Homo sapiens: one gene and its partners. The protein of the gene in region 1 interacts with the protein of each later gene in a pairwise test. Each region holds a gene or a part of one and is shown in the gene's direction. Other genes may lie near its edges. The genes, in order: TPR, MECOM and MAP3K4.

Region 1 (3,660 bases):
AGATGGATGAAAGATCTAAATGTAAGACCTGAAGCCATAAAACTCAGAGAAGTGAACATAGGGGAAAGGTTCTTGACATTGGCCTTGGTAATGATTGTTTGGATCACATCAGTAGTTCAAGCTGCAAAAAGAAATAAACGGAACTACATCAAACTAAAAAGCTTCTACACAGGAAACAAGAATATTAAAAGGCAACCTACAGTTCTGACATAGGTAGCTTGAGATAGATATTTCTAACTCAAAAACATGTAGATTGCCATTGTTTTGCTGGGAAGCAGTTTGACAAGTTTTTTGTTTTTGAGACAGGGTCTCACTCTGTCACTCAGGCTAGAGTGCAGTGATGCAGTCTTGGCTCACTGCAACCTCTGCCTCCCGGGCTCAAATGATCATCCCACCTCAGCTTCCTGAGTAGGTGGGACCGCAGGCATGTGCCACCATGTCTGGCTGTTTTTTTCTACTTGTAGAGACTGGGTTTCGCTGTGTTGCCCAAGCTGGTCTTGAACTCCTAGACTCAAATGATCGGCCCAGCTTGATTTCCCAAAGTGCTGTGATTACAGGCATGAGCCACTGCACCTGGCTGACAAAATATATTAAAAGTTTTAAGTAATTCAATTTTTAGGAATCTTTCTTGAAAAATAATTTGAACTAAGGTGTAAATACAGTGATATTCTAAGTTATTAGGACATTTCCATGTGATTAAAAGAGATATGAGAAAAATTTTCATAAGCCTAGTAAAAATGTTTTAAAAATCCAAAATTTAAATAGAAACATTGGAATTACGGGTATTTTTTAACTTTGATGTGTAAGTTATAAGAGAAAGCCAGTCATTTACACTACAGCTGATGTTAACTAAAGTGACAATTCTATGTTCGCTTTCCTGTATTGCTCTACTTGATTTTCTTACTTATTACTTCTTTATATGACAGAGCCAATTTACAAGAACAAAGGAAGAATTAGAAGCTGAGAAAAGAGACTTAATTAGAACCAATGAGAGACTATCTCAAGAACTTGAATACTTAACAGGTATGAAGAAGTGCTTGTAGCTTTTAGCTCCATTCCTTTATTTTTCTTCTGTTAGTGCTAGGAGTTAGTGCTCAGCCCATTTCTGTTGCTGATATTTTTTTGTTATGGTTGAGTATAGAGTTGTCATATCCTATTATTTCTCCTACTCATTTATCTTTAAATCATTGTCAAGTGTTTAAAGAAGTGTCTAGAAAGTGCACAAGTGAAGAACATCTCAAAGAAGTAGTAATTTGGACCAGATTTTACATGCAAAGATTTTCACTACAATGCTGTACATAATGTCAAATTGGAAGCACTTTAAATATTTGCAAAGGCTGAACTACTGTTCTTTATTTCATATGGACATCCTTGCTATATAATAAGCATTCAATATAAGAACATATACTCAGCCTATATTTATAAACAGACTGAAGGAGGCAGAGACATAAAATACATAAACATAGACTGTAGTATATAATACAGCTGATGTAGTCAGGTGAACTTGACTCTGAAGCAGTTAATGGTAAGAAGTTTCCTTTGGTGCCCAGGCACGGTGGCTGACGCCTGTAATCCCAGCACTTTGGGAGGCTGAGGTGGGTGGATCATGAGGTCAGGAGTCCAAGAGCAGCCTGGCCAAGATGGTGAAACCCCGTCTCTACTAAAAATAACAGAAATTAGCCAGTCATGGTGGCACGCACCTGTAATCCCAGCTACTTTGTAGGCTGAGGCAGAGAATTGCTTAAACCCAGGAGCCGGAGGTTGTAGTGAGCCAAGATTGCGTCACTGCACTCCAGCCTGGGCGACAGAGCTAGACTCCGTATCAAAAAAAAAAAAAAAAAAAAAAAAGGTGTTTTGGGTTCTTTTTTTTTTAATGGTTTTTGAAATTTTTTTATTTCTATAAAAGAAAGGATTTTCAGATATTTATATCATTATACAATAATATTCCATTAGTTAAGTATACTTTCCCAGTCTCACAAGAGTTCCTTCAAAATACTTGAGTGTGTTGATCAACAAGTGGTAGTTACAACTAAACGAATTCATAAAATCTAGATATTTAATAGATAGTTTTTTAAAAATGTGTATTCCATATTGAGTAGGTTTTTATATTAGTGCTTTTTAGCTTAATGATTATTTATAAAATTTTAATAGGTCTTTGGATATATATCAGGAAAATTAAGGTTAACGTTGAATATTTAGCTTAACACACTGTATTTAAAATAAATTTGGATAATTCACAAGTTTGGATACACAAATTTCAATTTTTTGTCATATATTTGTAGAAATTGAATTTGTAATTAACTATGGCAGAAACAAGTTAAAATAAGAGAGTTGAGAACTACAGTTGACCCTTAAACAACACAGTGGTTAGGGTTGCTGATTCCCCCCACAGTTGAAAATTTATGTGTAACTTTTGACTCCCCAAAAACTTAACTACTGCTGTTAACTAGAAGCCCTACCAATAACATACACAGTAGATTGTCATACGTTTTGTCTGTGATCTGTATTATATACTGTGCTCCTTCAATAAAGTAAGCTAGAGAAAAAAATGTTAAGAAAATCATAAGGAAGAGAAAATACGTTTACTGTACATTAAATGGAAGTGGATCATCACAACCATCTTCATCCTCCTTGTCTTTACATTACCTAGGCTGAAGAAAAGGGGTTGGTCTTGCTGGGTCAGGTTGCAGAGGTAGAAGGGGAGGCAGAAGAGGGAGGCACACTCAATGTAACTTTACGAAATACAGCCTAATTTCTGTCTGACTTGCTTTTTCATTTCTCTAAAAATGTTTCTATACATTACCAATCTTCCTTCCACCGTTTGCTATAGTTTCAGTGCCCATGTAAGAGAAGGATCCATGTCATAAAAGAAATCAAAAGCAGTCTTGGGTAATCAGAACCCTTCCACCAGATAGTCTGTTACCAATATGTTTTCTGACACTGCTAGTTCTACATTCTTTTTCCACATCGTCTGGCACTGGTTTGGAAGCACTCATCTCCATCCAGTCATCTTCTGTTAATTTATCTGATATGGTGGCTATTAGCTCTTGGATTTCTCCAAGGTCCGTATCTTGAAACCCTTCATCCCACTTTTTTTGCCATATCCACAATCTCTTTCATGATTTCTTTGATTGGCTCTGTTACAAATTTTGTGACATCATGCACAACATCTGGAGAGTTTCCTCCAACAGGAATTTATTATTTCAGCCTTGATGGCTTTCATAACTTTTTCTGTAATGAAAAAGAAGGGATGGCCTCTTCAGTGTGTTATCCTTTAAAACTTTCATGATATTTTCTCTGTTGGGGTTCTCTTCCACAGTGTTGACATTTTCTTTTCACAAAGTATCATCTCTATTGAGCCGTAAAGGTCCTTATGACTCCTGATCTAAAGGCTGAATTAGAAACATGTTTGGGAGCAAGTAGACTGCTTTGACACCTTCCATGTTGAACTCCTGGGTTCTGGGTGGCCAGGGACAGTGTCTAAAGTCAAAAGAACTTTAAAGGCAGCCCCTTGGCCAGGTACGGTGGCTCATGCCTATAATCCCAGCACTTTGGGAGGCCGAGGCAGGTAGATCACCTGAGGTCAGGAGTTCGAGACTAGCCTGGTCAACATGGCAGAACCCCATCTCTACTAAAAATACAAAAATTAGCTGGGCGTGG
Region 2 (3,660 bases), on another chromosome or scaffold:
ATTATATTACAGATACTTTGTAGGCAAGATAAACAACAGGAAGCTAATGTTGGTGTAAAGCTCAACCACATATAAAGTGCTTAAGTGTAAAAGTGGTTTAAGTTTATGTAAGCCTTACACCAATCCAGTGATACGGGTATTGTGAGTCTTGCAGTGCATAGGCAAGGAAGGGGAAGATCATCCTGTAATCAGCATATCTAATATTGTCCTTTTAATACTGCACCAACCCCTGGACTGGAGTGTTCTGAGTCAACTCACAGCTTCGCCCAGCAAACCAGGATGCAGAATTTTCAGTGTGCCTTTAAACTGTATTTTGTTATATGCTTTAGCATAGTAGCCAAAAAATAAATAAATAAATAAAAAGGCATGTTGACTGCAACCAGGACTTCATATAGAGTGTCTCTTGGCAGAATCTATTTAAAACTTGTTCATAATTTGTCTCACTCTAAATTCTCATTATGTGAATACAAATATTCTCATGTCACAATAGAGGTAAGGAAAAGCTAGTGAGAGAAGCACCTTCTTTGCGAGACTGTACTTCATGATTTCAGTGGTTCAATATATTCCCAAAGGACCGTCATGGGCATGTGTATTATGGTAAACTGGGGAGACTTTGACTTTCTAAAGTTATTATTATTAATATTCATAGGGCATGTTTTAAGAAACAGCACTGATCAAATTCATAAGGAGTGAGTTTCCAAATAAGTTGCTAGATAAACAATAATCTTTGTCATAAAAGGCTTTCTGCTCCACACAGGTACAGCAACATCGTCGCCTCATTCTGAACTGGAAAGTACAGGTGCGATTCTGGATGACAAAGAAGATGCTTACTTCACAGAAATTCGAAATTTCATTGGGAACAGCAACCATGGCAGCCAATCTCCCAGGAATGTGGAGGAGAGGTAAAGCTGTCTTTTACTTTTTAAACTCTGTGACGACTGAAATGAACATGTTTTAAAATATACTTGCTATGCTCACTTTTGTGGCACTACTATTACTTCAGTCACCAAAGACTGGTATATATTTAGTACATATTAAATACCACATTAAATGCTTCCAAGCATTTTACATGTGTTAATTAATTTAATTTCATCATAACCCTATGAGATAGCCACTATAATTTTAGCAGTGAAGGAATGGAGACATTGAAGCTTAAACCATTGTGTCAGAGGTCACATAAGTAATCAATGGGATTCAACCTGAGCTCTCTGGTTCCAGAGCCCATAATTTTACCAGGATTTAGCTATCTGATAGCTGAATAGAATCTGTTATCAAAATTTCAGAAGTAGAAGAGAAAGCCGTCACAGGGATTCAGTTGAATCACTGATCAATAGTGGCTACTATTATACATCATAAATTATATATATTACAGGTAATATATGATTCTATATACCTGTATTATACATAAATACATATATGTATATTCTGTATATATGTAATATACATATTATAGTACATATGTATGTATGCATTTATATATGAAATACCCATGGAGTTTCCCCCAAATATATTTTACATAGAAGCTTTTATAGTCTTCTTAAGATTCTATTGCTACTTTATGTCCTCTTAAGTGACTACTCATTTAATTCTGGTCTGTTTGTTTCAGTGGGTATGAACATCCTTGTTTTTACTGCCCTGATGCACTGGCTCCCTTTTATCATCACCAACATTAAGCATGAATAGCTTAATTCATTTAAAAAAGCTTTTAATGCTGTTAATGATAATACTTAACAGTTACCCAGCACTTCACATTGCATATGAAGTTAATGAAACACTATTTCACCAAAACTACTGGATTTAATTTTTCTTATCTGTAAGCTATAATTAAATATCTATTGTTGAGAAGTAGACTTTTCTGAACACGACTATATAGTGACCTATTAAATTCAGATGCTACATTGTAAATTTCAAAATAACATGAAATTAGTTAAAAGTTCCATTATTTTTCATCATACAAGTATTATTGGATTAGTGTCCTCTGTTTTTGATGTTATCAAAAGTCAAAATTAATTATTTTATGTAATTTTTTCAAGGCAAACATCAAATAAACATTTTTTACTAAAATAACAAAAAAAATGACCACTTCTGTTTTTCAACTTGTATAAAAGTGTATCAAAGAAAAACAAGAAAAAAGACCCTTCCAGTCTCTGAGAAGTCTGATAACTACACCAGTGTGCAGTTGGATGTACCTTTCCCTTTACTTGCCCATTTGTGTGTGTGTGTGCGTGTCTGTCTGTCTGTTTGTGAAAGGGAGAGAGGAAGCAGATGATCAGAAGGACAAAGTAGCAAGAACAAGCAAGAAACAGTGACGATCTTATACTTTGATAATGATATTTACTTGATGCAAATAAGAACTGTTGAACAAAACACACCATTTGGGTTCTGAGATGCCTATTCAAATTTTCTAGCCTTTAATTGGCGATTTGTGAGCCTGTATAGTTGCAACATCTGGCTTCAGCATGTCTAAACAGCACAGAAATAAGAAGGTTGAGTCATCTAAGTTTTTCCCCTGAACTCCTACCAGGCTACTTTTGATGAATAATTTATTCTCTGTAAATTGCCACATTTGAAAACTTAATTAACAAATAGATTTTCTTAATTATGTTGGCTTTTGTTACTTTTGATTTTCATCCATGCACTCTTTTTGTTCTTTTACTTTTTCTTTCTTTTTTTTAAATAAAAATTTTAATCCACTCATGCAAGCAAGTTGGCAGTGTGTTTGGAAACTAATTTATGTCTGTGCAAAAGATGTTTTCACCATTCTTTGATAAAAGAGGTTAAGCGATTGTTTTTATTAAAAGCTTAATAATGATATGACTTTTTCTGGTCAAATGGATTTTTACTATGTGTGTTTGTCACATCCAAGATTGTTTTATTTATTTTTTAATCCTGGGAAATCTGAATATTAAATTATACTCATTTTTGTTATGTGGGAAAGTGATGGGGGTACATTGTAATACCTGAGCTTTTTCCACCCTGGCGTTTTCCTGAGAAACAAGGAACTATTTCACATTCAGACTGTAAAAAATAATTTGAAAATAGTACAAATAAGTGAGCTGTCAATTACTTCCAAATATGGGTAGAGTGGTTAGGTGGAATGTACCACAAATGTCATCTAGTATCAGTAAATACCAGTTGTTTCTTGGTAACTACTTTAACATTGTCTTTGGACTTTTAGAGTCACTTTAGGCATGTGTATTGTAGCTACGGCCCATGAGTGATATGAATTTTCCAGAAATCTATTATTTTAAATGGTGGGTACTTACATGGCAATTAGGTAAATTGTGCTGAGAACATACTTATGTGCCTTTTTATATGATATATATAGCAATATCAATTATCAAGCAAAGTCTGATAAGAAATGGGAGACCAAGATTGTTTTTCGGGTTCTGCCAGAGGCTTCATTTATAATCTGAACAATCATACAATTATTTTTTTCTTTATCTTCCCATTTGTGAAGTCACATTATTTTTTCATGGTTGACGTAGAGCATAAACAATAAAACATTTCCGATGTTAAGTGTTGAAAATCTAAACTGTTGTTGGGAAGACATAATAAAGGAACAAATTACAATTTTAAAAATGAAACCAACAATTGGACTTTTTTTTTAATGCTTTTGAAAGAATGAATGGCAGTCATTTTAAAGATGAAAAGGCTTTG
Region 3 (3,660 bases), on another chromosome or scaffold:
CAGTGATTTCGAACATACACTGAAATTTGAGAAGCTTGAGCTAGATGATCTCTAAGTCCCTTCAGGTTGCTGACTTGTCTGGTATTCTAGTTCATCATTACTCTGAAGATCATCTCATACTTAAAGATTATCCATCTGTTTACATCTCATTTGAGAGCTCAAATAAGGCTGGTTTCTAAAATTTGGACAATATGTATATGGGAGAACATAAAAATTGCAAGAGTTTGATTAAAAATACAATTAATACATATTCTAAAGAGCCATTTTTAGTTGTAGATGGTGGGAATTCATTTGTTTGTCTTATATCCGTCAGATGAACCATATTGCTTGTCATTGGTTCCTTTCAGTTTCATTATAAAGTTTTCTTTTAAAAAAATTTTTATGTTCTTCTGATTTTACCAGAATTATTGGTGATTGGCCAAAGGAAAAAGTGTTCCAGAGGTTTGCTTTAATTGTGCTACAAAAATCACACCATTTCATTTATAGTCACTTGGGAGATCAGGTGTCCCATTCATCAAGTTATTAAGAACTATTTTTGTAGTCCTGTAATTAGAACTTGCCAAATAAAACATTCTATATAGCTAACTCCTGTACTTTTTATTCATTTTCCTTTTCAGAATTCTGCTCTGTTTCCATTTGACTTTTGTTAATTGCAAAGGAATTTAGTATTAATAGGAAACCAAAAAACAAGCACACCTGTCCATCAGTAATAGGCTTTTGGTTGTTATTAAAAAGTTCCTTAGTCATGTCAGAGTGGGTAAAGACAAAATGTAAAAATGCTCAGGGAAATGACTAAGTCTATAGACTACCCCCGCACCCAACACCCTAGTGTTGTTCTCAGATCTCCCTTAAGTCATAAGTCCCTTATGATTTTATAGAGGCCTAACTGGTCATCAGTTGCCAGAAAGCACTCTTGGATTTACTCTCTGTGTCAGTCCATTTTGCGTTGGCTATAAAGGAATACTTGAGACTGGGTAATGTGTAAAGAAAGAGGTGTATTTGGCTCATGGTTCTGTATGCTATACAAGCGTGGCACCAATATCAACTCAGCTTCTGGTGAAGCCTCAAGAAGCTTTTACTCATGGTGGAAGGTGAAGAGGAAGCAGGCATGTCACATGGAGAGAGAGGGAACAAGAGAGAGCTCTCACATGAACTAATAGAGCGAGGACTGGCTGGTTCCCGTGGGGAGGGCACTAAGCCATCCATGAGGAATCTGCCCCCATGACCCAGACATCTCTCATCAGGCCCCACTTCCAACACTGGGGGTCACATTTCAGCATGAGATTTGGAGGGGGCAAATATACAAACCAAATCACCCTCTCCTTCTGTCACAAGTATATTATTCTAAAAATGTAGCTACTGCTGAGGTAGAGTAATTGGTATATCCTTTTTGCACAGTAGCTAGACACGAGTTTGTCTATTTTAAGTTCGAATTGCGTCATTATTTAAACTAAGATGTATGAATTTATATTTTGTGTATATTTTTCCAAAACCAACTTGGGTTTTGTTTTGGGGTGGGGGGGAACAAAAAGCTTCTCTGTCCCATCTTGCTCCTTTCCCAATTTGCTTTTCCTTAAACCTACTATGTAGGTCCAAATATTAAACCATTGCTTTATCTGAACACAAAATTTCAAAAAATTGTGTAATAGACTGTTTTGTATGCTGTGAGATAAACTTAACAAGATTTGTATTTAACCTATAAAAGTTACTTTTTCAGGCTTGCTGAAATGAGATTATGTTTATGTGGAAAAATGGGATTGTGGCATTTTTTCTTAGATTGCTTTCATTGTTGGAATAAAGGTCTAGGGTGAGAAGCTTCATCTGTTATTATTTTCATGTTTTGCCCCTGGTAAGTGTAGCACAGATTTGGAATAATGCTTGTAGCCAGTCTTCTGGGACTATTAAAGTCATTTAATCCTTAGTTTTCACTTAGGACCTTTCAATCATAGATTAGAAGAACTTGAATAAATTATATAAGAAAAGTAATATTTTTTCACTCTCAACTATTACTTTCCAATTATAAATTGTATGCAGATAGTCTGTGGCCATTATCAATAATGCACCACATTAGTTCTATAAAGTATTTTAAAAAGCCCAACGCCTGAGCCAACAAGATTGTTTTTTATTTCACAATTTTTTGTTTTCTTTGACTCAAAATCATTTATTTGGGTGTACATAATAGTTAATACACATTCTATTCTAGGTCTTCATTGCCTTTCTTCTGCACACTTTTCTTGGATGTTCTTATCTACTATCACGATATTAAATAATATCTGTACATACTAATAATTTCCAAATCCATTTCTCTGGATTTCTCTCCTAAGCCCAACATGTGTGTTTTTTTAGTTACCTATAGATATTTCCACGTGTATGTCCCATAGGCACGTCAAATTCAGTGTATTAGAAACTGAACTCATTTTCTTTACCTCCAGTCCTACACAGTGATACAATGTATATGTCATTTTGTGTTTCCCAGTAATAAAGTATAATATGAATTATCTTGAAAAATATAGTGGAGTTAAATGTGGAAGCACTGGTCATTTTTGGTTTCAAAATACCATGGGTTAACCAAATAGTATGTATGTGCTCTGTTAATAAAGGTATAAAAAACACAGTTAAACGCATCAGAGCAAGAGAATTAAAGTTGGTCTAAGCAATTTTTTTATATAAATAAGAGTTGATAAGCATTTATAGCTAGAAACAATAAAACTGTGAAGAAATTTTCTTAAATGGACTATATGAAAAGTTTAAAGACATTTAGAAGTAGATTAGTACTAAAGATAAAAATTCTATCTTAAAAATTTTAAATTTAAAAAATAATAATAATAGTAGTTTGTATACTAAAATACAGCAAAAAATCTCTATGGACAGATTGGTTTAAAACCTTTTTTGATGGATCATAAAGTAAATTTAAGGCAAGTTTAATATAAGAAAAACCAAGCTATAAGTGCTCTTTGGGAAATTTGTTTAAAAATCCTTATTTTAAGACTAATTTGAATCGGTTAGGAAGTAAATTGGTTTTAAGCAAATTTTCATTGGTGCCTTGGTTTGTGGTATATTGGTTTGTAACCCATGTAAATATACCCTATTCCATCAAATCTGAAGATATACTAATATGTCTTTAGATATTACATTCACAACTAATCTCTTATATATTCCCAACTAATCACCTAAAACTAGGTGATATTATATACTAAGAAAATTATATAATAATTTCTTAGTATAATTATTATATTAATATATATAATAAAATTCTTAGTATATAAGAAATATATACTAAGAGATTATAATATATTCTAAGGTAAAAACAGCTTATAATTGATGGTGTGTTCTTATAATTGGAATTTTTATTTATTTAAAGAGATCTTTTATACTTTCTGATATGTAGATATATATTTCACTTATGCATATATATATATATATATATATATATATGTTTAAAAAAATGGGCCAGGCATAGTGGCTCATGCCTGTAATCTCAGCACTTTGGGAGACAGAGGTGGGAGGATTGTTTGAGCCCAGGAATTTGGGACCAGCTTAGGAAACATAGTGGGATCCTGTCTCTACCCAAAAAAAAAAATTAGCTGGGTGTGGTGATGCGTGCCTGTGGTTCTAGCTACTTGGGAGGCTGAGGCGGGAGGATCACTCGAGCCCAGGAAG

What was found.
Region 2: the proteins of TPR (region 1) and MECOM interact in a two-hybrid assay, tested with the Homo sapiens proteins (one study listed by BioGRID).
Region 3: the proteins of TPR (region 1) and MAP3K4 interact in a two-hybrid assay, tested with the Homo sapiens proteins (one large-scale study listed by BioGRID and IntAct).

Annotation. Positions count from the first base shown.
Region 1 is NC_000001.11:186,365,249-186,368,908, reverse strand, and holds part of TPR (nucleoprotein TPR), read left to right. Parts: intron 1-926; coding exon 927-1,023; intron 1,024-3,660.
Region 2 is NC_000003.12:169,090,200-169,093,859, reverse strand, and holds part of MECOM (histone-lysine N-methyltransferase MECOM), read left to right. Parts: intron 1-757; coding exon 758-902; intron 903-3,623; coding exon 3,624-3,660.
Region 3 is NC_000006.12:161,043,711-161,047,370, forward strand, and holds part of MAP3K4 (mitogen-activated protein kinase kinase kinase 4), read left to right. Parts: intron 1-3,660. UniProt on the Homo sapiens protein: Component of a protein kinase signal transduction cascade. Activates the CSBP2, P38 and JNK MAPK pathways, but not the ERK pathway. Specifically phosphorylates and activates MAP2K4 and MAP2K6.